Homo sapiens: one gene and its partners. The protein of the gene in region 2 purifies or fractionates together with the protein of the main gene of each other region. This does not show direct contact. Each region holds a gene or a part of one and is shown on either strand. Other genes may lie near its edges. The genes, in order: FAM171A2, LILRB3, TMEM192 and LRRC34.

The links.
Region 1: the proteins of LILRB3 (region 2) and FAM171A2 purify together in Homo sapiens (affinity purification with mass spectrometry, with the first as the bait; 2 studies listed by BioGRID). This does not show direct contact.
Region 3: the proteins of LILRB3 (region 2) and TMEM192 purify together in Homo sapiens (affinity purification with mass spectrometry, with the first as the bait; 2 studies listed by BioGRID). This does not show direct contact.
Region 4: the proteins of LILRB3 (region 2) and LRRC34 purify together in Homo sapiens (affinity purification with mass spectrometry, with the first as the bait; 2 studies listed by BioGRID). This does not show direct contact.

The regions. Positions count from the first base shown.
Region 1 is NC_000017.11:44,352,910-44,360,853, reverse strand, and holds the end of FAM171A2 (protein FAM171A2 precursor), read left to right. Parts: intron 1-721; coding exon 722-949; intron 950-1,182; coding exon 1,183-1,275; intron 1,276-1,748; exon of another isoform or gene 1,749-1,909; intron 1,910-4,265; coding exon 4,266-4,424; intron 4,425-4,501; coding exon 4,502-4,681; intron 4,682-4,779; coding exon 4,780-4,896; intron 4,897-5,012; coding exon 5,013-5,139; intron 5,140-5,662; coding exon 5,663-7,121; 3' UTR 7,122-7,639; downstream 7,640-7,944.
Region 2 is NC_000019.10:54,219,395-54,228,632, forward strand, and holds the start of LILRB3 (leukocyte immunoglobulin-like receptor subfamily B member 3 isoform 2 precursor), read right to left. Parts: upstream 3,614-9,238; 5' UTR 3,583-3,613; coding exon 3,549-3,582; intron 3,389-3,548; coding exon 3,353-3,388; intron 3,169-3,352; coding exon 2,884-3,168; intron 2,737-2,883; coding exon 2,434-2,736; intron 2,393-2,433; exon of another isoform or gene 2,224-2,392; intron 1,986-2,223; coding exon 1,689-1,985; intron 1,437-1,688; coding exon 1,134-1,436; intron 812-1,133; coding exon 761-811; intron 526-760; coding exon of another isoform or gene 475-525; intron 211-474; exon of another isoform or gene 1-210.
Region 3 is NC_000004.12:165,069,207-165,075,307, forward strand, and holds the end of TMEM192 (transmembrane protein 192), read right to left. Parts: 3' UTR 1,402-6,101; downstream 1-1,401.
Region 4 is NC_000003.12:169,802,251-169,810,598, forward strand, and holds part of LRRC34 (leucine-rich repeat-containing protein 34), read right to left. Parts: intron 6,496-8,348; coding exon 6,378-6,495; intron 5,460-6,377; coding exon 5,338-5,459; intron 5,241-5,337; coding exon 5,176-5,240; intron 4,682-5,175; coding exon 4,598-4,681; intron 1,932-4,597; coding exon 1,803-1,931; intron 1-1,802. UniProt on the Homo sapiens protein: Highly expressed in stem cells where it may be involved in regulation of pluripotency. In embryonic stem cells (ESCs), important for normal expression of the pluripotency regulators POU5F1/OCT4 and KLF4.

The DNA of each region.
Region 1 (7,944 bases), on a different chromosome or scaffold from region 2:
AGGGAAACAGGCTTGTGCAAAGGATTCTGGGAAAAGGATGAATGATGGGAATGACCAGTTTCCTAGTGTCCCCTGTCAATTTTTTCCCAAGACCCCAAACTCTGCCCTAGCCTCCATCCTCCCTTTCAAACTGCTGAATCTTGACCCTTCTCCTCTCCGCCTGCGGACCCAGCTTTACTTAGCCTTTCTCAGCCCTCCTGTCCTTCTCCTCTCCCCAGGCCCGGGGTTAAGAATGTCGCTTCTAGAGGCAGACTGCCAGGTCTGGATCCCAGATCTCCACTTAGCTGTAGTCCAAGTATCTAAACTCTCTAAGCCTCAGTTTCCTTATCTGTAAAATGGACTAAGAGCATATATTATCAAATCCAATACACCACTGACTGTAAGATGCACCATGATTTCAGGTACCAGTAAGAAAGGAAGAAATGCTGCCAGTTATAACGATGGCATCATCAATCATAGGCATAGCCCGAGTTTAGAATTGTGAAAATGTGACACAGCGCATGTGTTAGACGATGAAATACAGGAATAGTCCCACCTCCGGCATGGGCTGATAGGAGGTTTCAGTGAGTGCTCTGTGAATGCTGGGTCTTAAATCATGCCTTCTCTAGCCTCAGCCCAAAAGACTCTCTCAAACACAGCTCCTTCCTCTGATCTTGGGGCTCCCCCCAGTTCTCTTTCCCCCTCCCTCGTCCTCACTCCCTTTGCCCCATCTTGCCCACAGAGATCCTGATCAAGGTGCAGGTGTATGTGAGCGGGGAGCTGGTGCCCCTGGCCCGGGCCTCAGTGGATGTGTTTGGGAACCGGACTCTGCTGGCAGCTGGCACCACAGACTCAGAGGGTGTGGCCACCCTGCCCCTCAGTTATCGCTTGGGCACCTGGGTGCTGGTCACTGCTGCCCGCCCTGGCTTCCTCACCAACTCTGTGCCCTGGCGTGTTGACAAGCTGCCCTGTGAGTGCAGGGGCAGGTGGAGGGGGGGGACAGCAGCTGACCCTCCATCAGCCCCTTCCCAAAATAGTCTCCTTGGGGGTGGAGGGGGAGGCTTTCCAGCAGCTGCTGCCTGGGCTGGGGTACACAGAGGGGGCTGAGGGAGGGTGAAGCCTCTGGGACTCAGATGGAGGGGGTGCCTGGCTGGGGGGTAGGGGGTGGGTTTTCCTGGAGCTGACCGGCCATCCCTCCCGCAGTGTATGCGTCTGTCAGCCTCTACCTGCTCCCTGAGCGGCCGGCCACGCTCATCCTCTATGAGGACCTGGTGCACATTCTCCTAGGCTCTCCCGGTAAGGCTCCCCCTCACCCACGCCAACTCTTCTTCCTTCCCCTGACCTAGGTGTAGAGACCTCCACTGTCCTATATTAGCTGGGTGTCCTTGGGCAAGTCACTTCACCTCTCTGAGCCATAATTTGCTCATTTGTAAGACGTGGAAGGTTAGTGCCTACATCATCAAATTGGAGTAAGAAATCACAAAGTGAAAAAACACAGTACAGAAGGTGTTCAATAAATGTTTACAGTTATCGGGGCTTCTCGTGGTTTCTATTCTCCATCTATTCCTACCTTCCCTGCCACCTTTATCTTCAATGGGTCTACACAGATTTGTTGTGCACCTGCTGGATGCACAGGTGCACAGGAAGTGCAAGGCCCAGAGCAAGCCTGCAGTTCCTGGTCTACCCCCAGGCTTTTGGTCTCGCTCAGCTAGTACTTACTTCAACTCCTAGGCTGTGCCAGGCATTGTGGCTGGTGCTGGGAACCACGGTGAGGAAGAAGACCCGCTCTTTGCCTTTGGACGTTCACAGACAAGTAGGAAGACAGATCATTGCAAGCCCTGAAATAGTTCCAGAGCAGGCAGGGCAGTGGAGTGGAGGGCAGCTGCTTTCAGTGCTGAGACGGCCCTAACCTGCGAGGGGACCTGGCTGGGTGAGAGCTTGTCGAACGGAGCAGTCAGCCCTCGACTCAGGAGTGAAGGGGAAGCAGAGGCACCTCCACTGGAGAGGAAGGCCAGGGGGAGACATCAGGTGGAGGGTAGTAGAGGACAGTGAGGGTTTGGGGGCTCCATTCCGCTTAGAGGGCCATGGTGGGTTTCGGAGTTTGAGGAACCCCATCCCAGTTTGTAGTCTCAGCTTGAGCCCTTGTCATGGAGCTAGTTTTTGTTGTTGTTGTTGTTGGGTTTTTTTTTGAGATGGAGTATTGCTCTGTTGCCCAGGCTGAAGTGGTATAACCTCGGCTCACTGCAACCTTTGCTTTCTGGGTTCAAGGGATTCTCCTGCCTTAGTCTCCTGAGTAGCTGGGATTACAGGCACCCATCACCACGCCAGACTAATTTTTGTATTTTTAGTAGAGACGGTTTTGCCATGTTGGCCAGGCTAGTCTCGAACTCCTGACCTCAGGTGATCCACCCGCCTCTGCCTCTCAAAGTGCTGGGATTACAGGCGCGAGTCACTTCACCCGGCCTCACCAAGCTGCTCTTGTTTGCTCACCTTCGTCACTCTGATCCCAAGCTTCTAAGTGCCCCTGCAGGTTTCTAAAATACCAGTGGACCCTTTGTGGCCCCCTAGCTTGAAGCCCCTGCATGGCGCCTACTGCTTTCAGTACCAAGCCCAGGTGCCATCTCAGAGCTGACTGCACCCTCCAGAGCCCGGGCCGCCCTCTGCCCCACGCCTCTGGGCCTTTCTCATGCCAGGCCTCCTGGATGTCCTTTCCCTCTTTCTTTCCTGGCTGAGTCTTCCACATCCTCCAAGACTCCACAGGGCCTCCCCTGAGCTGAGTGAGACCAGCTCCCCTAGTCCTCTGCATCCCTCTATTTGGATAGCAAGGCAGGAGGAATGGCATGGCAGAGGATGGGCCTGGAGCCCGATGGCCTGGGCTTCTATCCGGGCTCGAGGATTGTGACCTCGTGCAAGTTACTGAACCCCTGTGCCTCCATTTCTGCACCTCTAAAATGAGGTTGATAATAGATACCTAGCTCAGGGGCTATTTTCCTAATTGCAGGGGTTAATATAGGTAACCTGCTTAGAACAGTGCCCAGCATAGCTTAAAGATTAATAAATGTTAGCTGTGACCATATTGTATTGGAATTGTTTGTATGTCTGTCCCCTCCACCCCAACACACACACACACACACACACACACACGACCTAAACTGTCTAATGCAGTAGCCACTAGCTACATATTAAATTGAAGTAAATTAAATTAAAAATTCATTAATTTTTTTTTTTGAGATGGATTCTCACTCTGTTGCCCAGGCTGGAGTACAATGGCATGATCTTGGCTCACTGCAACCTCTGCTGCCTGGGTTCAAGCGATTCTCCTGCCTCAGCCTCCCGAGTAGCTGGGATTACAGGCGCCTGCCACCGCACCTGGCTAATTTTTGTAGTTTTAGTAGAGATGGGGTTTCACCATCTTGGCCAGGCTGGTCTTGAACTCCTGACCTCGTGATCCACCTGCCTTGGAATCCCAAAGTGCTGGGATTACAGGCGTGAGCCACCGCGCTCGGCCTTTTTTTTTTTTTTCTTTTGAGATGGAGTTTCGCTCTTGATGCCCAGACAGGAGTGCAATGGCACAATCTCAGCTCACCGCAACCTCCCCCTCCCAGTTTCAAGTGATTCTCCTGCCTCAGCCTCACGAGCAGCTGGGATTACAGGAATGCACCACCACACCCAGCTAATTTTGTATTTTTAAGAGAGTCAGGGTTTCTCCATGTTGGTCAGGCTGGTCTCCAACTCCTGACCTCAGGTGATCCACCCACCTTGGCTTCCCAAAGTGCTGGGATTATAGGCATGAGCCACTGCACCCACCTAGAAAAAAATCATTACATTTTTAAAAATTAAAAATCCAGTTCCTCAGTCACACTAGCCACATTTCAAATGCTTAACAGCCACGTGTGTCCAGTGGGTACCATAATGGGCAGCACACCTAGAAAACATTCCCATCACAGCAGACGTTCATCTTTGGGCCCCCAGTGTCTAACCTGGTGCCTGCCACATAGTAGACAATACTGTTTGAGGATCTGGATCGCAACATTTTATAGGTTCTATAAGGAAACTTTCTACTAAAACAAGTAAATTGCTGAGGGTCACACAGAGATTTCAGGTCCATGTCCCTTCCAGGTTAACATTCCATGACTGCCCAGCTTTCTCCCCAAGGCATCACCCTCCCTGGCCTTCCAAAGTGGCCTGACCTCATGTCCCCCTTTTCCTTAGATAATGGGTTTCTGCTCTGGTCCCTGGGGATCCCTGTCCATGGTCAAGCCACTGCAGCCCCTCTTTCCCTCCAGGTGCCCGCTCCCAGCCCTTGGTGCAGTTCCAGCGCCGGGCTGCCCGCCTGCCTGTCAGCTCCACCTACAGCCAGCTCTGGGCGTCACTTACGCCTGCCAGCACCCAGCAGGAAATGCGGGCTTTCCCTGCCTTCCTGGGCACTGAGGCCTCCAGCTCAGGTAGGCTGGGTGCCCAGCACGGATGGGGTCTCCCCAGGCTCAGGATCAGCCCTCAGCCCTGTACCCTCTTCCCTCAGGCAATGGCTCCTGGCTGGAGCTGATGCCCCTGACTGCTGTGAGCGTGCACCTGCTGACAGGTAATGGGACAGAGGTGCCGCTCTCAGGCCCCATTCACCTGTCCCTGCCCGTGCCCTCCGAGACTCGTGCCCTCACCGTGGGCACCAGCATTCCAGCCTGGAGATTTGACCCCAAGAGTGGTAAGTGCCTCAGGGGGCTGCAGGTGCTTGAGTTGAGAGAAGAAAGTGGGACTTGAGTGGGAGCGACTCAAGTGTGACAAAACCCCTGCCTCTCCCAGGGCTGTGGGTGCGCAATGGCACTGGTGTAATCCGGAAGGAAGGCCGGCAGCTCTACTGGACCTTCGTCTCCCCCCAGCTGGGGTACTGGGTGGCCGCCATGGCCTCCCCCACGGCTGGTAAGAGTAGTGGGGCAGTGGGCGTAGAGGCCGCGGAGGAGGGGAGCTGGGAGAGCAGACTTCTGAAAGGCAGGAAGGGTGTCTACACCTGAACGCTAAGCCCTCGCCTGGCACAGGGCTGGTCACCATCACGTCGGGCATCCAGGACATCGGCACCTACCACACCATCTTCTTGCTCACCATCCTGGCAGCCCTGGCCCTGCTGGTGCTTATCCTGCTGTGTCTGCTCATCTACTACTGCCGGTGAGCACGGGGCTTCCCTCACCCTCCCCTGCACTTGTACCGGGCCCTGGGGCCCCAAAGATGCATAAAATCCACTTCTGGTCCTCAAGGGGCAGACAGGAAAAGACTTCCTGCAAACATGCTAAGACCTGAAGGGCTGGTGCTGGTGGTTGAAGACAGCGGGGAGGTGGGAGGGGAGGCAGGGCTTAAGGACTTGCAGCCCGGCCCCTCCAGAGAGATCTGCCACTGCCCCTACCAGCCCAGCTCTCTCTCCCAGAGGACTCCAGGCCGGACACACCCATAGACAGCTTAGATGCTCATCCCTGGTTCTCGCAGCACATCCTACATGCAGAGGAGTGCAGAGTTGACCCTGAGGGGATCGCCAAACGGACACGGCGGCTCCCCGCCATCTCTCCTGAGCGCCCCAGGCATTCTCCCCACCTCTTCCACTATATTCGTCTCTTGTCTTGCATCTAAGGGGGTTCGGGGCCTACTTTGGCCCTCACCCTTTCCTGAGCGGCCCCTTCTGCTCCCTCCCTTCCAGGAGGCGCTGCCTGAAGCCGAGGCAACAGCACCGCAAGCTGCAGCTCTCGGGGCCCTCTGACGGTAACAAACGAGACCAGGCCACCTCGATGTCCCAGCTCCACCTCATCTGTGGGGGACCCCTGGAACCCGCCCCGTCGGGGGACCCCGAGGCTCCGCCTCCAGGCCCCCTCCACTCGGCCTTCTCCAGCTCCCGGGACTTGGCCTCCTCCCGGGATGACTTCTTCCGCACCAAGCCGCGCTCTGCCAGCCGCCCGGCCGCCGAGCCTTCGGGTGCCCGCGGGGGCGAGAGCGCCGGGCTCAAGGGCGCTCGCTCGGCCGAGGGCCCCGGCGGGCTGGAGCCCGGCCTAGAGGAGCACCGGCGGGGGCCCTCGGGGGCTGCGGCCTTCCTGCACGAGCCGCCCTCGCCGCCGCCGCCCTTCGACCACTACCTGGGCCACAAGGGGGCGGCCGAGGGCAAGACCCCCGACTTCCTGCTGTCGCAGTCGGTGGACCAGCTGGCGCGGCCGCCGTCGCTGGGCCAGGCGGGGCAGCTCATCTTCTGCGGCTCCATCGACCACCTCAAGGACAACGTCTACCGCAACGTCATGCCCACCCTGGTGATCCCCGCGCACTACGTGCGCCTCGGCGGCGAGGCGGGCGCCGCCGGCGTGGGCGACGAGCCGGCCCCGCCGGAGGGCACGGCACCCGGCCCGGCGCGCGCTTTTCCCCAGCCCGACCCCCAGCGCCCGCAGATGCCGGGCCACTCGGGCCCGGGGGGCGAGGGCGGCGGGGGCGGCGGCGAGGGCTGGGGGGCCGGGCGCGCGGCGCCCGTCAGTGGCTCAGTCACCATCCCTGTGCTATTCAACGAGTCCACCATGGCGCAGCTCAACGGGGAGCTGCAGGCCCTGACCGAGAAGAAGCTGCTGGAACTGGGCGTGAAGCCGCACCCGCGCGCCTGGTTCGTGTCCCTCGACGGGCGCTCCAACTCGCAAGTGCGCCACTCTTACATCGACCTGCAGGCGGGCGGCGGGGCACGCAGCACCGACGCCAGCCTGGACTCGGGCGTAGATGTCCACGAGGCGCGGCCCGCGCGCCGCCGGCCCGCGAGGGAGGAGCGGGAGCGCGCCCCGCCTGCCGCGCCGCCGCCGCCGCCCGCGCCCCCGCGCCTGGCGCTCAGCGAGGACACGGAGCCCAGCAGCAGCGAGAGCCGCACGGGCCTCTGCTCTCCGGAGGACAACTCGCTGACGCCGCTGCTGGACGAGGTGGCGGCGCCCGAGGGCCGGGCGGCCACGGTACCCCGGGGGCGGGGCCGCAGCCGCGGGGACAGCTCCCGCAGCAGCGCCAGCGAGCTGCGGCGCGACTCGCTCACCAGCCCGGAGGACGAGCTGGGGGCGGAGGTGGGCGACGAGGCGGGAGACAAGAAGAGCCCGTGGCAGCGGCGGGAGGAGCGGCCGCTGATGGTGTTCAACGTCAAGTAGCGCCCGCGCAGGGCCTGGCACCGCCCCTCCCGCGCGGGCCCGCACCCAGGGTGCGCGCCCCGGGGGCCCGCGGGGGCCCTCGCGCGTAGCTCCCAGCCCCAGGCCGGAGAGGGGCCCAGGGGCCTTGGAGCTGTTCCGTGGTTGGTGCTGGGTCGTGTCTTGCAAGGGACCCTGTGTCTGCCTCCAAGCCGGGGAGGAGGGGGGGTCCAGACCCCCACGGGGAGGTGCCGGGGAGGAGGGCTGGGGGGAAGCAGTGCCTGTGTAGACGTGGCTGTACATAGAAAGCTCTATTGTGGGAAAGCAGGAGGGGTGACCCAGCCTCAGCTGCTAGTGTGAGGGCTGGGAAGGGAGGGGGCGTTCTTTGTGGACCCCTGGGAGGGGAGGGGGTGCTGCTTGCTGACTAGCCCATCTCTGGGCTACGATGTCACAGGGCTGGTGGCTGGGACAGCTCTGGGGACTAGGGGGTAATGTGATACAGCCGATGTGGGCAGCAGCAAATATAAAACTGGTGAGGTTAAGGCTGTGTATGTCTTTCTGTGGGGTAGGGGAGGGGAGTGTTGGCAGTGGACGTGAACCCCTGTTCTGGGGCCCTGGGGAGGGCAGGCAGGGCGGCAAATCAGACACTGTTAAGAAAGTGTACAAACTTTATTGAAACGCACACGCGCACACACACAAACACCCCTGTGGATAGGGAAAAGCACCTGGCCACAGGGTCCACTGAAACGGGGAGGGGATGGCAGCTTGTAATGTGGCTTTTGCCACAACCCCCTTCTGACAGGGAAGGCCTTAGATTGAGGCCCCACCTCCCATGGTGATGGGGAGC
Region 2 (9,238 bases):
GATGCACAAACTGAGGCTCAGAGCAGGGAGTCGCCTGCCCCAGGCCTCCAGCGAGGAAGCGGCAGAGCTGGGAAGGGAGCCCGGGAGTCTGACCTGCAGCCCTTGTTCCTGCACCAGAGCCGAGACCCGGAGCTGCAGGGAAAGAGCCTGACCGTCCTGAACCACGGCCCTGCTCCCCTCCCCTGCCCCAGGTCACCGTCACTGCTGCAGGTGGGACGGGACAGGCCCCTGTGGAATCGGGTCTGGGAGGTTCCCTGGGAGGCCTCCTCTCCCAGGAGGTCACAGCTGGGGGTCAGAGCTGAAAGGAACTTTCCCACCCACAGGCCTCTCTCCTTTACACTTGGAGAAACTGAGGCCCAGGCAGGGGAGGGGCCTGTCCACATCACCACCTCCAGAGGAGCCTGAACCTAGGACAGAACCCACCCCTGCCTCCCCTGGACCCCGCCCATCTCCCACTCAGAGCCCCTCACTCACCATTCTGAGGGCCTGACCCTGGGGGGTTAAGGGGCTGGTCCTCAGGACCTCCTGGGTCAGGACAGGGAGGTGAAGGCTGGGGCTGTCTTGCCCCCCACATCAGCCCGGCTCCTCCTCCTGGCTGGGCCCCAACATCTCCCTCTGCCTCGACCCCCGCCCCTCACCAGCCCAGCCTCAGAGCCCCTGGGACACAAGCCCGTCCTTGAGGGGAGGGGAGTGGGATCCTTTGGGAGACTCAGACTGCCCTGGGGGAGGCGGCGCTCCCCAAGAGGCCTCAGTGACTCACCAGGTGTGGAGGGCGGCCCTGTGGGTGGGAGGCTGGAGCCTCCAGAGTGTCCTGGAAGGAGCACGGGAGGCGGGTGAGGGGCGGGGGCCGTCCATGGAGTGCACCCTTCCACTCCCACTCTCCTGCTTCCGCCCAGTGGATTCCCTGGAACCATCTCTCTGCCCACCTGGTGCCTTCTGCATGCCAGGCAGGGGAGAACGGGTGGCCACGCCTAGGAGAACCCCTGTTGGCCTCCTCCCCTCTGAGGGCTGGGTGCCCTCTGGCTAAGCCTCCCTCACAGCCTCCCTCGGTCCATCCCAGCCGAGAGCTCTCCTGGGGGCCTGGGCCGGAGCTGAGCCTTTGAGCTCAGAGAGGACGGGGTCAGCGCCCTCACCTGAGACCATGAGTTCCAGGGGCTCACTGGGGAAAGACAGCAGGTGGGGGTTGGAGCTGCGTGAGCCGTAGCACCTGTAGGTCCCCGCGTGGGCTGAGGTCACAGGACTCATGGGGAATTCAGCCTGGTACTTATGAGCTCCGTACATTGATCTCAGACGCAGTGGGGGATGGGCTGCCCCTTCTTTGGTCAGAAGGAAAGTGTCAAAATACCCCCGTGACTGACACAGCAGGGTCATGTTCTCTCCTGAGGCCACTGTGGGGCCCGGCTGTGCTGACAGGGAGACGGTGTCATAGATCTGTCCTGGAGAGAAGAAGGATGGGTGAGGGGCTGCCCCACCTTGCTCTGAGCTGACACCTCCCCAGGCCTCTCCCTGGGACCCTCAGTGTCTCTGTCCCTGTTTTCTCTGAGTCTCCCCTCCCCCCATCCCCTGTCTCTGTCTGTCTCTCCCTCCCTTGGGACCCCCACCCCTCATCCCGGCCATCACCACCTGGGCTCCCCCGGCAGGGCCTGTGCAGAGCCTGGGTCCCTGACTGAACCCGCTGGGCTCCTCACCTGTGATCAGGATGTCCAGGGGGTCACTGGGGGCCGACCACTCGGAGGAGAGGTTGTGTGCACCATAGCACCTGTACTGGCCCCCGTAGGAGCGGCTCACAGGGCCCAGGGTGAAGTTGGCCTGGGAGAGCCCAGCCTGGGGCTGCTGGCCAGGGCGCTGGAGGAAGTCACGTTCCCCCTCCTTATACAGAACAAATCTGTCGTAGCCGACATCAGAGCCACACTGGAGGGTCAGGCTCTGCCCAGGGGCCAGGACAGGGCCCTGCAGGGTCAGGAGGGAGGGCTTCCTAGACACGCCTGGAGGGAAAGAGGAGCCAGGACTGAGAGGGCTGGTTCCTCCCACGCCCCTTCCTTCTCCCGTCCTGGCCCTGCAGGTCTCACTGTCTCTCACGCTCTGAGTCTCTGACCCCAGGGCCTCCTTCTCACCCGGGGCTGTCTTGGAGTCATTTCAGAGGAGTGGGGTCTCCCTAGCCCTGGCCACTGTGCCTGATCTTTCCTCCTCTCCCTGAGAGCTGGGACCTCACAGCAAACACACCGATGCCTTCCTGAGTCCTCCCCTTCCAGGTGAACGTGGTCAAGGGCTCCTCCTCCCATGTCAGAGCCTCCCCATGGGGTCTCCCTCATGCCTTCAGCCCGTCCTTCAACACATCACTCTGGGTCCTTTCCAGATTCAGTCACCAGCCAAACTCCCCACAACCTGTCAGCTGCCCCGAAAGTGTGTTAGACAAGGCCGTGGCTCCCTCACCTGAGGGCAGAATCTCCAGGGGGTCACTGGGGTGGGACCACACCCAGGGGGTGTTTGTATAATAGTAATAGCATGTGAACCTCCACCTGTGGCTGGGGGTCACGGGGCCCACAGGGAACAGGGCCTGGAACCCCCCACTGTGGAGCTGCTGTGAGTCCAGGGTCCGGGGGAGCTGGTGTTCTCCTTCCTTCATCAGAACAAAATGGTGATATCCCTTCTGTGAGCCACATCGGAGGGTCATATTCCCCCCTGAGGCCACCACAGGGCTGGGCAGGGCTGAGAGGGTGGGTTTGTTGTAGAATCCTAGGAGAGAAAGAGGCACCGTGTTAAATGGGGCTCCCACCTCCCACATCATCCCCAGGGCTGGGCTGTGAGAGGGAGACGCCCCTGAGAGCCGACCCCCTTCCTGAGGGCAGAGCCTGGGGCTGGGACCCCAGAGTGTCCTCTCACCTGTCATCACCAGCTCCAGGGGGTCGCTGGGCTCTGACCAGCCTGCAGAGCTGTAATAGTGGCAGCGGTATCTCCCTGCATGGTGCTGTGTCATGGATGGGATGGAGAATCTGGCCTTGTTCTTGGGTTCCAGTGGGTTATTTCTGTCCCAGGGCTCTGGGCTTCCCTCTTTATCCAGTTGGTACTCCTGGGCCTCCAGGCTCCCCTGACACCAGATGGTCACGGGGCTCCCCCAGCTGATCACAGAGCCTGGCTCAGCCCAGAGGGTGGGTTTGGGGAAGGGCCCTAGATGGAAATCAGAGGCTGGATCCCAAGACATCCCCACGCTCAGATCCCAGCTCCCAGCCCCAGGACTTCCCCATCATCCCCATCAGTCACCCAGAACTACTGTCTCCTCCCCCAGCTGCCCATGGGTGGCCCCCTGTCCCAGTGAGGAGTAGGGACCTGGGACAGCTGGGGACAGACTCACCTGCCTGCATGCGGGTCCTGGGGCCCAGACTCAGCCCTGGAAGAGAGTTCCCTGTGAGGCATTTGCCCTGAAGCCTGAGCAGGTCCCCGCCCGGGTGCCTCCTGAGCTTTTGAGGTCTCCTGATGGACCAGGGCTTGTGTGTGGGGTGGGGTTCCTCCAAGACTCGGATCTCCCCCTCCCCATCTTGAAATCTCACCAAGGCAGAGCAGGGCTGTGAGGGCGGGCGTCATGGCGTCTCCTCCCGGTGACCCCGCGCTCTGCAGAGGGATGAGCCCTCAGTGCTGGCAGGACAGAGAGACACACAGGGTGTGGCCGCTCGGAGGCTGGGTCCTTCTTGTCATGGGGTTGTCTCATCCTCAGCCCACAGGAAGAGGAACTGCCACCCCAAGAACCTGGCTCTGATTTCCCCAGGGCTGAAGTGGGGGCAGGCACCAGGCTCTCTGCAGGCATTTCAGAGAGAAATGGGGTCTCCCTGCCCCCGGGCCACTGTCTGCCTGATTTATCTTTATCTCACTGAGGACGGGGACACAGCCGCAAATAGACCTGGTGCCTTCCTGAGTCAGCCCCTTTCAGGCGAGGGTGACCGTGGGCTCCTCCTCCCTCTCAGAGCCTCCCCATGGGGTCTCCCTCCCTCCTTCAGCTCGTCCATCAGTTCAGCGTTACGGGGTCCTTACCATGGCAGTCGTCTCTCCAGCCCTGGAGATGCTTCAGGGAAGACCCAGGTCCATGCTGCAGGCAGACTCAGATCAGCAGAGACGCACCTGACACCTGGCTGTGTAGTCCAGGCTGAGCTGCGTGTGGCAGTGAGCACAGAGAAATGCAGGGTCTACCGTGGTGGCTCATGCCTGGAATCCCAGTACTTCAGGAGGCTGTGGCGGGTGATGGCTTGAGGCCAGGAGCTTCAGACAGTCCTGGGAAACAGACTGTGACCCTGTTTCTACAGAAAAGAAAAAAGTGAGCTGGGCATGGAGGCTCATGCCTGTGGTCCCAGCTACTCAGGAGGCTGAGGTGGGAGGATCACTTGGGCCCGGGAGGCGGAGGCTTCAGGGAGCTATGATCACCCCTTGGCCTTCCAGCCTGGGCGACAGAGCAAGATCCTGTCTAAAAAGGAGAAATAGAGGGGATAAAGAGAAATATATATATATATGTTTCATTGTAATCTATAATCTGATTCTGGGGAAGGTGAGCTGATTTGTATTTAATTCCTGATTATCATCTAGGGTTTATGTGACTTTGGACATGAATGTCACCTCTGAGCCTGCTGTCATGAACCCCACTCATCACAGTGGCTGTGGGGGTCAGTGGTGCCCAGGACATGGGAGGCTCAGCCATGGTGAATTTCCAGACCAGTTCAGACAGGAGGGTGGGGACGGGAGAGGATCCTGGTGCTGGGCTCCACAGTCGAGGAGGATGATTGACGCCCCCACTCAAGAGCCCACATCGGCTCCAAATACCATGAAATTCTCCTTGTGATACGTCTGAAATATGCAGATCATCACAGCCACAGGCAGAGAAAGAGGAAAAACAGTTCCTCACATTGAGACGCATCCCCTTCCATGAGCAGAGTTCAATGCTGAGTGGCCACAGGTGTCTGGGACCACCGAGCGTCATTAGGGAGGAGGAGGCTCCCACCTCCATGTGGGACAGAAGAGGAACCCCACGTCCTCCCAGGCAGGGAGGGGTCAGGGCTCTGGGTGAGGCTGGAAGCGGTGGCTCCCCCTCCCCTGTGTGTGTGGACAGGCGCTGGGGGGTCTCTGCTCACTCACTGGAGGCCACGGTCAGCGCTCAGCCCCTCCCCTGTGTGTGAGAAACAGATTCGATCCACGGTGGTCAGACATGGGCGTCTGCCCCACAGGTGAGTGTGAGGCTGGCGTTGGTCCCATCGCTGCTGGGCACAATCTTGAGCTGACACTGAGTTTGGGGGAGTGGGGCAGGAGCAGCGGCAACAATCCCCTTCATCAGGCTGATGCCTGGACAGCCGTGGGAGAAACCCTTTATGAAAGGCCAGGTGCGTGGGAGGAGCCGCCCCACAGGAATGACAACCGTATGAGGACAAAATAGACAGTTGTTGAAATGCATTAGACAGACATCGTGAAGGTGAAAAACTATATTAAATTAACGCCATTAAAAAGGAATTTATGTCTGGGCATGGTAGTTCATGCCTGTAATCCCAGCACTTTGGGAGGTGGAGGCGGGCAGATCACTTGAGGCTAGGAGTTCGAGACCAGCCTGGGTGACATGGTGAAACCCCATCTCTACTAAAAATACAAAAAATTATCTGGGCGTGGTGGTGAGTGCCTGTAATCCCAGCTACTCGGGAGGCTGAGGCAGGAGAATCTCTTGAACCTGGAAGATGGAGGCTGCTGTGTGCTGAGATTGCGCCCCTGTACTTCAGCTGGGACAACAGGAGCGAAACTGTGTCTCAAAAAAAAAAGCAATTTACTAACCATATATACCTACTATGCAAACATAACAAAATCAAAGCATAATTTAATCCAGGGCAAGACAGCTGAAATAATAAATATATACATTGGGATAAAATATTCATGAAATTTTCCAGACTGTATCATGGAAAGAACAGAAATTGAACAATAGAAAATATTGATATATACACGAAGTTGAATGAGAAGAAAGAACGTGTCTGTCACGGTTTCAGAATGAAAGAAGGAAGAAGGATGTTAGTTCATGATATGCATGAAGAGCTAATGGTTGAAATTTTTACAGAACTGAAGAGAAAACATCAGTTTATAACTAAATTGAATATCTCGATCATGGTAAAGTGAAAACCATGAGGCATTAATTTAAAATAATCATAAAACTACCAGAGAAAATGTAAATTACCCTTGAATGAATGACAAGTTCATCGGGACTGGAGTTCCAAAGAGCAAACAGCAGCCCCAGAAGATACAGGAGAAACAACCACAAGCGTTTAACTGTGAGGAGAGAGTTCCTGTGCTGGGCCTAATTATTACTATTATAATTATTTATTATTATTATTATTATTATCTTTTGAGATGCAATTTCGCTCTTGTTGCCCAGGCTGGAGTGCAATGGCGCGATCTCGGCTCACCGCAACCTGGCCTAGTTATTATTAAAGGACCGAGTTGCAGTGTCAGCTGTGGATAAATCCTAGAACATAAGGAGACTCGGGGCACTCGTGACCCGTCAGGTCAGGCGGTGGCCTTATGAGGAATAAGGAGGGCGTTTTCAGTGTCCTTTTATCAGGTACTATGATAACAACAGAGAAAGAGAGAGATTGAGACAGACAGAGAGAGACGGAGAGACAGAGAGAGATTGAGACAGAGAGAGAGAGGGAGAGGGAGACACACACACACACACACGGAGAGAGACAGAGACAGAGAAGCAGGCATCGCTTGAGCTGCAAGGCTGCAGACATGTTTGCATCTGGGCTCTTTCTGAAAGCAATACTAAACAATGTAAATCAGGGAGTGGAATAATGAACCCCAAATGGAGAAGATGAGATGCTACTGTGAATAAGTCAACAGTACATACAAAAAACGAATAAGCATAGATCTATCTGTAATCTGTGTATATACAAGTATATGCATTTCTACTAAGAATCTGAAAGAGCAAGGAAATGGATTCGCGTCTCTGGAGCCTCCAGAAAGGAATGCAGCCACGTTATGGCCTTGATTTTGTCCTAAAAGACTGTGAGATAATGAGTTTGTGTTGCTGAAGCTGCTCAATACGTGTAATTTGTTATGGCAGCAATAGCAAACCAATACTAACACAAACAGCCTTTGAAAAGAAAAATAGATGATATTTCACACTTTTATTTATTTATTTATTTATTTTATTTTATTTTGAGACGGAGCCTCGCTCTGTCACCCAGGCTGGAGTGCAGTGGCGCGATCTCGGCTCACTGCAAGCTCCGCCTGCCGGGTTCACACCATTCTCCTGGCTCAGCCTCCCGAGTAGCTGGGACTACAGGCGTCCGCCACCACGCCCGGCTAATTTTTTACTATTTTTAGTAGAGACGGGGTTTCACCGTGGTCTCGATCTCCTGACCTCGTGATCCGCCTGCCTCGGCCTCCCAAAGTGCTGCGATTACAGGCGTGAGCCACCACGCCCGGATATTTCATACTTTTAAATCAGCAATCTGTGAAGAAGAGAAAGTTATACACTTTCACTCAACCAACCACATGTCCTTAAAATTTACAAAGCATCAATTGAGACACAGTGGAGGATTTGAAGAAATATTGATCAGACTTTGATAGATTAAGTGAACAAAATATTCGTGAGGGTTGCATGGCACAAATGTTCAATCTCATGCGCAAATATGATGTTTCGATTGTTTATATATTATGTAAATTTGTATAGAAACGTTTCTGGAATATACATATAGCAACAAAGTGGGAATGCATATTTCTTTATATATATTTTTTTGAAACAAGGTCTCTCTCTGTTGCTCCATCTGAAGTACAATGGCACTATCCCAGCTCACTGCAGCCTCGACCTCCTGAGGCCTAGGTGATTCTGCCACAACCATTTCCTGAGTAGCTGGGACTACAGGATCATGCCACCTTGCCTGGCTAAATTTTTTTAATATGTATTTTTTTGTAGAGACGAGGTTTCGCTATGTTGCCCAGGCTGGTGTCAAACTCCTGGGCTCACGGGATCTGCCCACCTTGGCCTTCCAAAGTGTTGGGATTACTGGTGTGAGCCACTGTGCGAGGCCAGGAATACTTATTTATGAAAACATATTGATCAGAAATATCTATCTTTTTTTTTTTTTTGAAACGAAGTGTAGCTCTGTCGCCAGGCTGGAGTGCAGTGGCACGAACTCGGCTCACGGCAATCTCCACCTTCCGGGTTCAAGCGATTCTCCTGCCTCAGGCTTGTGAGTAGCTAGAATTACAGGCGTGCGCCGCCACACCCAGCTAATTTTTTTGTATTTTTAGTAGAGACGGGATTTCACCATATTGGCCCAGATGGTCTCGGTCTCCTGACTTCTTGATCTACCCGCCTTAGCTTCCCAAAGTGGTGGGATTACAGGTGAGAGCCACTGTGCCCAGCCGTCTCTATCATTTTTACACAGCAAAGTAAGCATCCAAACTGTTACTACAGGTAACGTTTCCTGATTAGAAGTTCAATTAAATTAGCAGCCAACAATAAGAAGACATTTAGAGAAAAAGCAATACTTTGGAAACAAATAACATTCTAAATATTCATGGGTTATAGGCTGGATGTGGTGGCTCATGCCTGTAATCCCAGCACTTTGGGAGGCTGAGGCAGGTGGATCACTTGAGGTCAGGACTTTGAGACCAGCCTGGCCAACATGGTGAAATGCTGTCTCTACTGAGAATGCAAAAATTAGCTGGGTGTGGTGGCATGCACCTGTATTTTCAATGACTCGGGAGGCTGAGACGGGAGATTCACTTGAACCCAGGAGGTGGAAGTTGCAGTGAGCCGAGATTGTGCCACTGCACTCCAGCCTGGGTGAGAGAGTAAGACTCCATCGCAAAAGCAAAAACAAATATTCATGGGTTATAGAATCACACAACATTAAATTGATAGAACATTAACGAAAAATGTCAATGAAATTATAACATATGAACGTTTGTAGGATGTAAAGTAAGAGAGTGAGAGAGAGAGAGGGAGCACAACAATTACCAAATCAAGATGGAAAGAGGCACCACTACCCATCCTACAGACATAAAAGGACTAGTGAAGCAAAACTAGGAATCTATGCTAAGATGTTTTACAACTCACATTTAATAGAAAATATCTTGAAGTATACAAACTACCAAAATTTACTCAAGAACAAATATATAGTGTAACATTTCCTATTTTTATTAAAGAAATTCAACTGGCTGGGATTGGTGGCTCACACCTTTAATTCCAGCACCTTGGGAGGCTGAGGCG
Region 3 (6,101 bases), on a different chromosome or scaffold from region 2:
ATATGAGTGAATATTTTTATGAACATGTCTGGTGTTTCCTACTAACTTTATCCATTTATTTTATTTTATTTTAATATTATTTTTTAAAAGATAAAGAGATGGGGCCTCACTAAGGTGCCCAGGCTGGTCTCAAACTCCTGGGCTCAAGCAATCCTCATACCTCGTCCTCCCAAAGTGCTGGGATTATAGGCATGAGCCACCATGACTGGCCATCTGTTTTCTTTTTTTTTTTTTTCCTTTTTTCTTTTTTTTTTTTTTTTTTTTTTTTGAGACGGAGTCTTGCTCTGTCACCCAGGCTGGAGTGCAAGTGGCACAATCTCAGCTCACTGCAAGCTCCGCCTCCCGGGTTCACGCCATTCTCCTGCCTCAGCCTCCCGAGTTGCTGGGACTACAGGCGCCCGCCACCATGCGCAGCTAATGTTTTGTATTTTTAGTAGAGGCGGGGTTTCACCATGTTAGCCAGGATGGTCTCGATCATCTGAGCTCGCGATCCACCCACCTCGTCCTCCCAAAGTGCTGGGATTCCAGGCGTGAGCCACCGCGCCCGGCCATGGCCATGTGTTTTCTAATAGGTTATTTTTATCTTATTCATTTAAATTACAAATGTGGGCTGGGTGTGGTGGCTCACGCCTGTAATCTCAGCACTTTAACAGGAGTTCCAGACCAGCCTGGCCAACCTGGTGAAACCCCGTCTCTACTAAAAATACAAAAATTAGCTGGGCGTGGTGGCAGGCACCTGTAATCCCAGCCACTAGGGAGGCTAAGGCAGGAGAATCGCTTGAACCTGGGAGGCAGAGATTACAGTAAGCAGAGTTTGCGCCACCGTACTCCAGCCTGGGCGACAGAGTGAGACTCCGTCTCAAAAAAAAAAAATTTTTTTTTTCAACAGAGAGAGGGTCTTTTCAACAGGAGGCTGGTCTCCAACTCCTAGGCTCAAGAGATTCTCCAGCAGTGGCCTCCCAAATTGCTGGGATTACAGACGTGAGCCACCATGCCCCGCCCCAATTTGAAATTTCTATCTGAACATCTAGTTCCTATATAATAACAGAAATGTCTTAAATATTTATTAATATGGGACTGGATTAGTAGGAGCAGAGCTCTAAAAGGTTAACAAATATTCCTGAATATATGTTTATATGCAATCGGCAATGGTACCTTTCCAATTGTATTTTAAACTGGTTCTTTTTGGTATGTAAGAAAATTGTTATCTTCATGTTTTACAGTCTGCCACCCTTGCTTTCTAATGGTTTTTCTTAAATTCTCTAGATGTCTAATGGTTAATTCTTAAATTTTCTAGATATTAATATATAACCATCCCATGCACAAATTAATCCTGCTCCTTTATCCAACTGTATTGATGGGCACTTTTGGACAATAGTAAATAGCAGTGATTATAAAAACTAGCAGTCTTATCTCTTTTATTTCTGATATGTTGTTATTTTTTAGTGTATCCTAGACATAAACTTTTAAACAAGACCTTAAAAAAATAATCTCTCAGTTCAGGACATCATAAACAGAAAGTGAAAACAGAGCCCAGGTTACAGCTGGATTACAGGAACAGGCTTTGAGCATGTGTGAGCATAGTTTTTCTACTACAATTCCAGTAGTGAAATCACTGAAGTTAGTGACATTAATTCATCAACGTATATTGAGTGCCTACTTTGTGCCAGACACTGTTCTATGTATGAAGGACACAGTAGTAAGCAAAAGATAGAGCTTACATTCTATCAGGAGACACAGACAAAGTAAACAAGTAAGTTACATGCAGTATTTTCCCCTTATCTACAGGGGAAACATTACAAGACCTCAGGTGATGCCTGGAGCCACAGGTCTGCAGGGGAATCATTGCAAGACCTCAGGTGATGCCTGGAGCCACAGATAGTACTAAACCCTACGAACACTATATTTTTTCCTATCCACACATAACTACAATAAAGTTAAATTTATAAATTAGGCACAGAGAGTAACAACATTAATAACAAAATAGAATAATTATAGCAATATACTATAATAAAAGTTACGTGTGGTGGTGTGGTGCACATCTATAATCCCAGCTACTCAGGAGGCTGACTGAAGTGGGAGGATTTTTTTTTTTTGGGGGGGGGACGGATTCTCACTCTTGTCACCCAGGCTGGAGTACAGCTGTGCGATCTTGGCTCACTGCAACCTCCACCTCCCAGGTTCAAGTGATTCTCCTGCCTCAGCCTCCTGAATAGCTGGGATTACAGACACGTGCCACCACGCCTGGCTAATTTTTGTATTTTCAGTAGAGACAGGGTTTCATCGTGTTGGCCAGGCCGGTCTCCCAACTCCTGACCTCAAGTGATCCACCCACCTCAGCCTCCCAAAGTGCTGGGATTACAGGGGTTAGCCACCACACCTGGCCACAAGTGACATTTGAACAAAGACTTGAAAAAGATATATGGGAGTTGATCCTTCCAGGCAGAGGGAACAGCAACCGCAAAGGTCCTCAGGTAAGAATGTGCTTAGCAATCCAAAAGCCACAGTGTGACCGACGCAGGGTACACAAAGGAAGAGTAGGAGAGAGGAGGTGGGGTGGGGTGGGAAGTGGAGATTTTCTAGGTCCCTGAAGGCCACTGTCCAGGCTTTGGCTTTTACTGAATGAAAAAGGGAACCATCAGAGTAGTGTTTTAGAAGGATATTGTTGGCTGCTTTTTGTGTGTGTGCATGGGGCTGGGGGGTCAGGGTGGAGAGGTAGTGAGAAGCAGAAAGATCACTTAAAAGACTCTTATAGGCCAGGTGTGGTGGCTCATGCCTGTAATCCCAGTACTTTGGGAGGCCAAGGAGGGAGGATCATGAGGTCAGGAGTTCCAGACCAGCCTAGTCAGCATGGTGAAACCTCGTCTCTACTAAAAATAAAAAAAGCACACCTATAATCCCAGCTACTCAGGAGGCTGAGGAAGGAGAATTGCTTGAACCTGGGCAGCGGAGGTTGTAGTGAGCCGAGACTGCGCCACTGCACTCCAGCCTGTGCGACACGAGTGAGACTCCATCTCAAGAAAAAAGAAAGAAAGAAAAAGAAAAAGAAAAACACTATTATAATAGGGCCAGGCACAGTGACTCATGCCTGTAATTGCAGCACTTTGGGAGGCCAAGGCGGGTGGATGACCTGAGGTCCGGAGTTCAAGACCAGCCTGGCTAACATGGTGAAACCCCCTTTCTACTAAAAATATAAAAAAATTAGCTGGGTGTGGTGGTATGTGCCGGTAATCCCAGCTACTCAGGAGGCTGAAGCAAGAGAATCACTTGAACCTGGGAGGCGGAGGTTGCAGTGAGCCCAGATCGCGCCACTGCACTCCAGCCTGGGCAACAGAGCGAGACTCCCTCCCCCAAAAAAAAAAAACAAAACCAAAAAACCGAAAGACTATTATAATAGTCCAGGTGAAGATTATAGTGGCTGGGGAAGTAGCATTGGGGGTGCCAAGAATTGGTTGGACTCTGGGTATGTTTTAAAGGAAAAGCCAGCAGGATTTGCTGATTAACTGTCTATAGGGTTTGAGAGAAAGAGGAGCTGCCATTACAGGGGTGGAAGAGACTGTGGCAGATAGCTCAGCTGGGGACATGTTCTGTTTGAGGTGTTTTTTTATATACCCAAGTAGTGATCTAGAAGGGGCAGTTGGACACATAAGTCTGGAGTTCAGGGAGGAAGGCCTGGCTGAAGATTCACATTTGGAAATTATCAGCTCATAAATTCTATCAAAGTCATGAGATTGTGTGAGACCACCAAGAGAGTGAACGCTGATGGAGAAGCCAAGAGGCCCAGGGGTTGAGCCCTGGAGAATACCAACAAAAAGCAACTTGCAAAGCAGACAAAAGAAGAAGCTAGTGAAGTAGAAGAAAATGAGGAGAATGTAGTGTCCTGGAAGCCAAGCTGAAATAAAGAGTCAAGGAGGAAGTGATCAACTGTGGGGAAAAGAGAGAGATCAGATTGTTACTGTGTCTATGTAGAAAAAGAAGACATAAGAAACTCCATTTTGATCTGTACTAAGAAAAATTGTTTCTGCTTTGAGATGCTGTTAACCTATAACTTTAGCCCCAACCCTGTGCTCACAGAAACATGTGCTGTATTGGATCAGTTTAATGGATTTAGGGCTGTGCAGGATGTGCCTTGTTAACAATATGTTTGCAGGTGGTATGCTTGGTAAAAGTCATCGCCTTTCTCCATTCTCGATTAACCAGGGACACAATGCACTGCGGAAAGCCGCAGGGACCTCTGCCCAAGAAAGCCTGGGTATTGTCCAAGGTTTCCTCCCACTGAGACAGCCTGAGATACGGCCTCGTGGGAAAGGAAAGGCCTTACCATCCCCCAGCCCGACACCTGTAAAGGGTCTGTGCTGAGGAGGAGTAGTGAAAGAGGGAGGCCTCTTTGCAGTTGAGATAAGAGGAAGGCTTCTGTCTCCTGCTCGTCCCTGGGAATGGAATGTCTCGGTGTAAAGCTGACCATTCCCATTCGTTCTATTCTGAGATAGGAGAAAACTGCCCTGTGGCTGGAGGCGAGATATGCTGGCAGCAATACTGCTCTGTTACTCTTTGCTACACTGAAATGTTTGTGTAAAGAGAAACGTAAATCTAGCCTACATGCACATCCGGACACAGTACCTTTCCTTGAACTTATTCATGATACAGATTCCTTTGCTCACGTTTCCCTGCTGACCTTCTCCCCACCTGTTGCCCCGCTACACTCCCCTCGTCAAGATATTAAAAATAATGATCAATAAATACTAACAGAACTCAAGAGACCGGCGCCGGTGCAGGTCCTCGCATGCTGGGTGTGCTGGTCCCCTGGGCCCACTGTTCTTTCTTTATACTTTGTCTCTGTGTCTTATTTCTTTTCTCAGTCTCTCGTCCCACCTGACGAGAAATACCCACAGGTGTGGAGGGGCAGACCCCCCCTCAATCAACTGAGCCAAGTGTTGCTGATAAGTTAAAAGAGGAGACGTATGCATTCATCTCCAATTTAAGCAATGTGGAAGGAAGCTATTGGTGACCTTGCCAAGAACAGTTTCAGTAGAGTAGTAGAGTGAAAGGTGAGACTGGATAGAGAGGAAGGGAGAAGAATTAGAGATAGGCTTCCCTGGTTTGCGAATGAAACAATTTTCCTTAGGAAACCTAGAGAATGTTTTGAGATCTCAAATTTGTGATTGTCACATATTCAAAGTTTGATTCTTCAAGAACTCAAGAGTTTACCAGATGTGAGTTTTGTATTCAAGATTTATTTATTTATTTATTTATTTATTGAGACAGAGTCTCGCTCTGTCACCCAGGCTGGAGTGCAGTGGTGCGATCTCGGCTCACTGCAACCTCCACCTCCCGGGTTCAAGCAATTCTCCTGCCTCAGCCTCCTGAGTAGCTGGGATTACAGGTGCACTTCACTGCACCTGGCTATTTTGTATTTTTAGTAGAGACGGGGTTTCTCCATGTTGGTCAGGCTGGTCTCGAACTCCTGACCTCATGATCCGCCTGCCTCGGCCTCCCAAAGTGCTGGAATTACCGGTGTGAGCCACTGCGCCCAGCCTTAATTTTGTATTTTTAGTAGAAATGGGGTTTCTCCATGTTGGTCAGGCTGGTCTCGAACTCCTGACCTCAAGTGATCTGCCTGCCTTGGCCTCCCAAAGTGCTGGGATTACAGGCGGGAGCCACCACGCCCAACCAGAAGATTCTAGTTGTTAAGAAAAAGAATATCCTGGGACAATAATAAGCAAAGGACTTGAATATACATGTCATAAAAGATTTATAAAAGACCATATAATTTGGAAAAAATGTTTAACACTTCATTAGTATCCAAAGAAATACAATTTGAAACAATGACACACTCATCAGATGGGTCAAGACTTAAATAAGGTAACACCCACTATTGGTAAGGGTATGGAGACCAGGTGAGCTGGCTCATGCCTATAATCCCAGCATTTTGGGAGGCCAAAGCAGGTGGATCACCTGAGGTAAGGAATTCAAGATCAGCCTGGCCAACATGGTGAATCCCCGTCTCTACTAGAAATACAATTTTTTTTCTTTTCTTTCTTTTTTTTTTTTTGTGATGGAGTCTCGCTCTGCTCTGTCGCCAGGCTGGAGTGCAGTGGCAC
Region 4 (8,348 bases), on a different chromosome or scaffold from region 2:
ATGAGTATGAAAATTACCTCACTCTGCACCAAGAATGCTACCCATGCCACACTTAGGGAAGCACTATCTTAATGTCTGTGCATGCTGGTGCTCTGCCTGGAAGGTTCTGACATGGACACTCTCCATGAGTTTTTTCTCATCCTTCATAACTCGTAAATATTACCTTAGTAATATAAGTCTTAGGCAACCCTCCTGTAGCAGAATTACTTCTCCCCATTATCAGAGTACTCAGTCATTTTTGTAGCACTTTCCTCTACTTCTTCATTGGTGTTTCCCCAACTAAAATATAAGTTTCATAAGGGCAGAGGCAGAGGCCATGTGATTCACTGTTGTATCATTAGTGTCCAGCACAATGACTGGTATGTGGAGATGATAAGTACCGAATTAATGTTTTCCCAGAACCACACTGGCTGCATCTACCACCTTAAAAAGTTAATCTTGGCCAGGCGCTGTGGCTCACTCCTGTAATCCCAGCACTTTGGGAGGCCGAGGCAGGTGGATCACCTGAGGTCGGGAGTTTGAGACCAGCCTAGCCAACATCATGAAACCCCGTCTCTACTAAAAATACAAAAAAAAATTAGCTGGGCGTGGTGGCAGGCACCTGTAATCCCAGCTACTCAGGAGGCTGAGGCAGGAGAATTGTTTGAACCCGGGAGGTGGAGGTTGCAGTGAGCCGAGATCACGCCATTGCACTCCAGCCTGGGTGACAAGAGTGAGACTCTGTCTCCAAAAAAAAAAAAAGTTAATCCTTCAGAATCTATTATACCAGAGAGCCCCCTGGCCCATCTTATTTTCATGTCACATTGATTAACCTGAGGCTATACAACAGGTTCCCAAGAGTAGGCCTAAAGATTTGAAAGCATGTCAGAGAAAGTGAAGCCTGGAATTTGAAGACATGCAAAAAAACACATTTTTCATTATCAGGCCAGGTGAAGGTTCAAAGCGACTTTTATCTTTTTTAATAATTTTTAGAGACAGGGTCTTACCATGTTGCCCATGCTGGAGTACAGTGGATGTTCACAGGCACGGTTGTAGTGAACTGTAACCTCAAACTCCTGGGCTCAAGAGATTCTCCCACCTCAGCCTCCTGAATAGCTGGGACTACAGGTGCATGTCATGTCGCCCAGCTTCAGAGCAGCTTTTAGCATCATCATTTTAAGTTTTTGTGCTACAATATAAGTAACTACTAAAAAGTATTTTATTTTTGTTTTGAGTCAGAGTCTCACTCTGTCGCCCAGGGGCTGGAGTGCAACTCACTGCAGCCTCCACCTCCTGGTTCAAGCAATTCTCCTGCCTCAGCCTCCTGAGTAACTGGGATTACAGGCTTCCGCCACCAGGCCCCGACTAATTTTTGTATTTTTAGTAGAGACGGGGTTTCACCATGTTGGCCAGGCTGGTCTTGGACTCCTCACCTCGGGTGATCCACCTGCCTCAGCCTCCCAAAGTGCTGGGATTATAGGCGTGAGCCACTGCAGCCTAAAATGTATTTTCAAAAGTAAAAAATTATATGAATAAAGTAATATTTGTTTAATTAAAGTGAACATGATCTTTTTCTAAAAATTCCATACAGTTTAAGATGAGTTATATAGATGGAAGTTTAGGAATATTTTTATTAAGTATTTTTCTATGTTATTTACTATAGTCTGATTTTATTAATAATCTGCACTATTATGTCTAGGGGAAAAACACCTTTTCTCTGATATTAGACATAAGAGGCAAAATTAATCATTCATAAGACTCTGATTTAGCTGTTCTCTAATGACCCACTATCTGGATGATTTTCTCATAACCAGTTTACTCACCAGATCACAGTCACCCAGATCTAATTTCTCTAATGATGAATTAATTTGCAGCATTGCAGCAAAAAACATTCCACCTTTATTTTCAATTTTGTTTCCAGTCATTCTTAGGTATTTCAGAGTCCGATTCTTCTGAAAAGGAAAAAAAACTTATTTAATAATTGTTAATCCACAGAATTCTATATATTACATGAATTAGGAGACTGTATTACTATTTGCAGACTCCAATTTTCATGGAGCTAGAACACGATATATATTTTTTTTGAGACAGAGTCTCGCTCTGTCGCCCAGGCTGGAGTGCAGTGGTGTGATCTCGACTCAATGCAAACTCCACCTCCTGGGTTCACAGCATTCTCCTGCCTCAGCCTCCCAAGTAGCTGGGACTATAGGCACCCACCACCACGCCTGGCTAATTTTTTTCTGTATTTTTGGTAGACATGGGGTTTCACCATGTTAGCCAGGATGGTCTCGATCTGACCTCGTGATCTGCCCAGCTCGGCCTCCCAAAGTGCTGGGATTACAGGCATGAGCCACCGCGCCCAGCCAGAAGAGGATATATACCTTAAAGGTAACATTCAATCTACCATAATAGATAAAAATCTAGTTTAACAGTTGAGTAGAAAGAATGCCCAAGAAACAGATGCCCAAGCAATAACCAGTAAATAAAACATATATTAATAAACTTTCACTGGAAAAATCTGTAAATTTATCTTAAGAAAATTATAGCACTTCACTTTTTTAAATTGAGGTGAAATTCACATAACATAAAACTGACCATTTTAAAGTATACAATTCAGTAGCATTTAGTACATTCACAATATTGCACAGTCATCACCTGTAGCTAGTTCCAAAACATTTTCATCATCCCCGAAGCCGGTCCTATACCATTAACCAGTCACTCCCCATTCCTCCTATATCACTTTTAAAGTAATATAATTTGATAAATATTTCACAAAATCACAGACATTTCATCATTCTAATGAGTAACTATTAGGACATATAATAGTGTAAATAATTATCACGATTCAAACCCCTCTGAGATCAGGAAGAAGAAAAGGATGTCCTCTCACCACTTCTATTTAACATTGTACTGGAGGTTCTAGCCAGAGAAATTAGCCAAGAAAAACAAAAAGAAAAACCATACAAATTGGAAATGAAGTGAAACTCTGTATGTGACACCATCTTGCATAGGGAAAATCCTAAGGATTCCACCAAAAAAACCTGTTAGAACTAACACAAGAGTTCAGCAACATAGCAGGACACAAGATCAATATACAAAAACAGCTGTATTTCCATATGCTAACAATGAACAACCTAAAAATGAAATTAAGAACAACAGTTCCACTTACAATAGCATAAAAAAAAGTTAGGAATAAATTTAACAAAAGAAATGTAAGATTTGCACATTGAAAACTACAGAGCATTGCTGAAAGAAATGAAAGGCCTTAAATAAATGAAACATCTTATGTTCGAGGTTTGGAAGACTTAAGATGGCAATACTCCCCAAGGTGATCTACAGATTTACTGTAATTCCTATTAAAATCCCAGCTGCTGGCCGGGTGAAGTGGCTCATGCCTGTAATCCCAGCACTTTGGGAGGCCGAGGTGGGCAGATAATCTGAGGTCGGGAGTTTGAGACTAGCCTGACCAGCGTGGAGAAACCCTGTCTCTACTAAAAGTACAAAATTAGCCAGGCATGGTGGTGCATGCCTATAATCCCAGCTACTTGGGAGGCTGAGGCAGGAGAATTGCTTGAACCTAGGAGGTGGAGGTTGTGGTGAGCCAAAATCGCGCCATTGCACTCCAGCCTGGGCAACAAGAGCAAAACTCCATCTCAAAAAAAAAAAAAAAAAAAACTCCCAGCTGCTTTTCTTGCAGAAATTGATTAACTGACCTAAAATTCATATGGAAATGCAAGGGACACAGAAGAGCCAACACAATCCTGAAAAAAGAACAAGGACACATTTCTTGATTTTAAAACCTACTACAAAGCTATAGTAATCAAGATAGTGTGGTACTGGCATAAGGATAGACATACAGATTAAAAGAATAGAATTGAGAGTACAGAAATAAACTCCTGTAATGATGGTTAGCTGATTTTTGGACAAAACTGTCAAGACAGTTCAATGGGAGAAAGAATAGTCTTTTAACAAATGGTGTTAGGACACGTGGATATACACATGCAAAAGAATAAAGTTGGATTCCTACCTCATACCATATTCAAAAATTAAAATGGATCAAAGAAAGAGCTAAAACTGTAAAACTCTTAAAAAAACATAAATCTTTGTGACTGGGTTTTCAAGATGAACCTTGAAAACATTAAGCCAGTCCCAAAAGGCCACATATTGTATGATTCTGTTTATATGAAATGTCCACAATAGGCAAATACATAGAGAGACGAAGTAGGTTAGTGACTGCCAGGGGCTGGAGAGCAGGGGGTAGAAAAGATGGAGAGGGATTGCTAATGAGTTTAGGGCTTTTCTTTTTGGGGTGATAAGAATGTTTTTAAAATAGTGATAGTAGTGATACTTGCACAGCCCTGTGAATATATTAATACTTAAAAAACCACTGAAGACTTTCAAAGGGTATATTTTATGTATGTGAGTTAAATCTTAGTAAAACTATGACTTCAAAAGTGTTCATGCAATGTCTACACTTGAATAAATTAAAGTATAATAAAAATATACATTCCTACAATATTAAAATAAGTTCACTTCAACATTGGACACTGTTGGTTCCAAGCTATCAGAAGTTAGAATTTCCAAATACAATGTTAGTTTGAAATACATAAATGCTTACATGTAGCACTTTAGCAATCAATTCTCCACCTTCGGGCCCAATATCATTAAACATGAGGTTTAAGTAAATGAGATTAAGTTGTTTCTATAAGAGAAAAGAAGCTATTACACATTATTATTATTGGAAATTGGTCAGTTTTACATACATGTATATACATATACACATACAGTATATACTTTATTTGAATAAGTGTTTTCCTCCAAAGAAAATCTTTATAACCAAGAAAAACTGTATCCTAGCAAAAACAACTACATTAAGGAAAAAAATCATTCTCATGTAATCAAAATATAATTACAATATAAATGAAAGAAAAAACTATATTTACCTTTGATCAATCTGAAAGATGTGTGGTGTATATATTTAATCATGGTGTACAAGTTTGCAAAAGATAACTTAGGAGCTCTAGCTACTGGCTCCATTGAGACCAAATCCACAATGGGTTTCCAGTATATTTCGAGTGTTCTAGCACAGAGTCAGGACCCTTGACATCAGGTAAAACTAGTGTTTTATGTGTGTGTCATTAGACTAATTGGTTTCATTGTAAATGGAACTAAGGACATTTTGTAGTAAAATAATACCTGAAGCAGTTTCGCAGCATAGTATGCACCAACATCACATAGAAGGTTATATCCAACATCCAAACCTGAAGCACAGATGAATAGAAGTGGATATTCATTATAAAGAATACTTAAAATCAGATCAATGAAAAGCAGGAGGTATTGATTCTTATGGAAACATACCATTAATATACAGACAATTCTTTAAAATTTTGGAAAGAATCCAAAAATCTTCACCTGTAACTCTTTCTACTGGCACTAAGCGATTGTTACCAGCAATGTTTAATGTGATTCCTGCTGCTAGCCTGTTAAAATACAAAAAAAAAAAAAAAAAAAAAAGATTTTGAAATAGAAACCCAGTAAAGAAGTAAAAGTATGTTTCCTTCATGTATAAATAGTCATATCACAGATATCATTTACTGGAAGCAAGCATATAATAAGTAGACTTATACAGTATATTTATACCAGGTAACTTAAAACTACTGAACATTCTGCAGACTGCAAAGTGCTTTAAAAGATTCCATATATTTAGCTCTCTCACACACACTCACACTCACACAAACAGTATCCCCACTTTATAGATAACACTGAAAACTTCAGTGATTTGCTTAGACTCACCCAGCTCAGGTTAGGCGTGGTGGTTCACGCCTGTAATCCCAGCACTTTGGGAGGCCAAGGCGGGCTGATCACCTGAGGTCAGAAGTTCGAGACCAGCCTGGCCAACATGGTGAAACCCTGTCTCTACTAAAAAATACAAAAATTAGCCGGGCATGGTGGCGAGCACCTGTAATCCCAGCTGCTCGGGAGGCCAAGGCAGGAGAATTGCTTGAACCCAGGAGGCTGAGTTTGCAGTGAGCCGAGATCACGCCACTGCACTCTAGCCTGGGCGACAGAGGGAGGCACCATCTCAGAAAAAAAAAAAAAAAAAAAAGATTCACCCTGCCCACAAACAAAAAAAAAAGATTCACCCCACCCACAGAAGTTAAAGATCACTCTGGAGCCCAAGCTTGGGTACTCCTGGTCTAGTGCTCTTTCCTGAATACTATACCACCTCTAAGACCTACTAACAGTGTTGCTCGTGTACTTACTTACCTGAATCAAATGGTATGTTCATTTTACCAAGCATTTTCAAATGGCTATAAAATCACTCAATATGTTAGGATTTTCACACACATGAATATAAGCAAACACTATTAATGTAATCAAGTATTTGTCTTTCTTACCCCTTTTTAATTTCTTCATCCACTTCTTGGAGTATATGCAATATAAAAGGATTAATTTTCTGGGATTTTTCCATACACAGATTAGAATAATGTTTCTGGAGACCAGATTCTGGAGATTCTGAAAAATATATGCATCCTCTATCACATATAAATTATTCTAGAAGCTTTAAAAAAAACCATAAAAACTACCTCTTTCAAATATATGAGTTGTATGTGTGTATAGTGGGGGTAGGGAAGAAAAGGAAACAGAATTAAGGTTAGAAAAAGAGAAGAGAAATAAAAATAATGAATGGGAGAGATAATTAAAATGCTGTTTGGAGAACTAGGGCCATTGAAGCACCCATTGAGGCTTGGCAGACACTGGCTCAAGTGAGCACCCTACGTTGGAAGTGACATAAAGGGAGAACTAAGCTCCATTATGTGCCAGGCCTGGTAGCTGAGGAAAATGACTTCCAAAGAAATTGTATATTTTGTCCAAAACCATGCAGCTAATAAAGGCAGAGTGCAGAATCAAACTGATTCCAAAACCTCTTTCCACTGTGCCCTAATGGGTTACAGGGACTCAAGGTTTCTTTTTTTTTTTTTTTTTTTTCAACTCAGTATCTCAGCATCCACGAGAGGAAAAGGTTTCTTAAAATAGCTTCACATAAAAACAATTTTATCTAATAACCTAACTCAAAAGGGATCTGATAAAGCACCTACTCCCACAAGCTTCTTGGATACCCTCTACACCATCCCAAGTTTGAATGTAACTGTCATTTCTTCATACCAAATCGAGGCCTGGCTCACAGAAGCTCTTCTCCTACCCAGCCTTCCATTTCCTCTTTCTAAAGGTGACTTTTCCCTAAGTTCTTAAGAAGACAGACACAAAGCAGGAGTTGAGATCTCCTTTCTGTTATACATGCAGATTTCCTTAATGACCTTGCTGTTCTCAGTAATACCTCAAAAGCATCTTCTGCAAGGCCTACATCTTCTGGGGTGGAAGTTATGCTGTTACTTTTCTTAGAAGTACAGGCCACTGTCTTTGTTTTCTATACATCTACCTTTTGTGGATGTCTTTTAAAAATTTGTGCACAGAGATCTCATTGCTCAACCAGCCTAGCTTTTTAGGAGCTGGCTTCTCTTCTAAGTCTCTACATCTCAGAAATGTTGTTTACTGAGTGTCCTTTGCACTCTGAAGAATAATGAGTTTGCTAAACGGATCTGCAGAACGAGATTTAACATGAGGAACATTACATTTCAGATGAAAGCAAACAAAATTTTCTTATAGTTTTTAATAACCTTTTTAAAAATAAATTTAATATACTTATTCCAGACAATTTGGAAATTTCTTTTTTTTTTTTTTTTGAGATAGGTTCTTGATCTGCCACCCAAGCTGGAGAGCAGGAGCGCAATCTCGGCTCACTGCAACCTCTGCCTCCCGGGTTCAAGCGATTCTCCTGCCTCAGCCTCCCGAGTAGCTGGGACTACAGGCACACACCACCACACCCAGCTATAAAGACGGGGTTTCACCATGTTGGCCAGGCTGGTCTCAAACTCCTGACCTCAAGTGATCAGCCTGCCTCAGCCTCCCAAAGTGCTGGGATTACAGGTGAGCCACTGAGCCCGACCGGAAATTTCTAACATTAAAAAAAAATACATGTTAATCTGCAATCCCACTGCCAAAGAACAACCACAATTGAGGTCTAGGCATACATACTTCCTATAGTTTTTCTTTTATATGCATATTAAGTATTTTTTAAACAAAATTGGAATCTTTGGATATAACTTTATATGCTGTTTTTTAAATTAACATTATATTGTAAGCAGTTTTCCCATGTCACTAGATATTCTCTGAAAAATTTAAATAGCATAATTTCTGTCATGTGGATAGATGTACGTATTAAAAAAAGCTTCACCTATTTTAGAAAATTTTCATGTATTTAAATGATATTGTAGCACAATATTTCCCAAACTGTATTTTGTGGAATA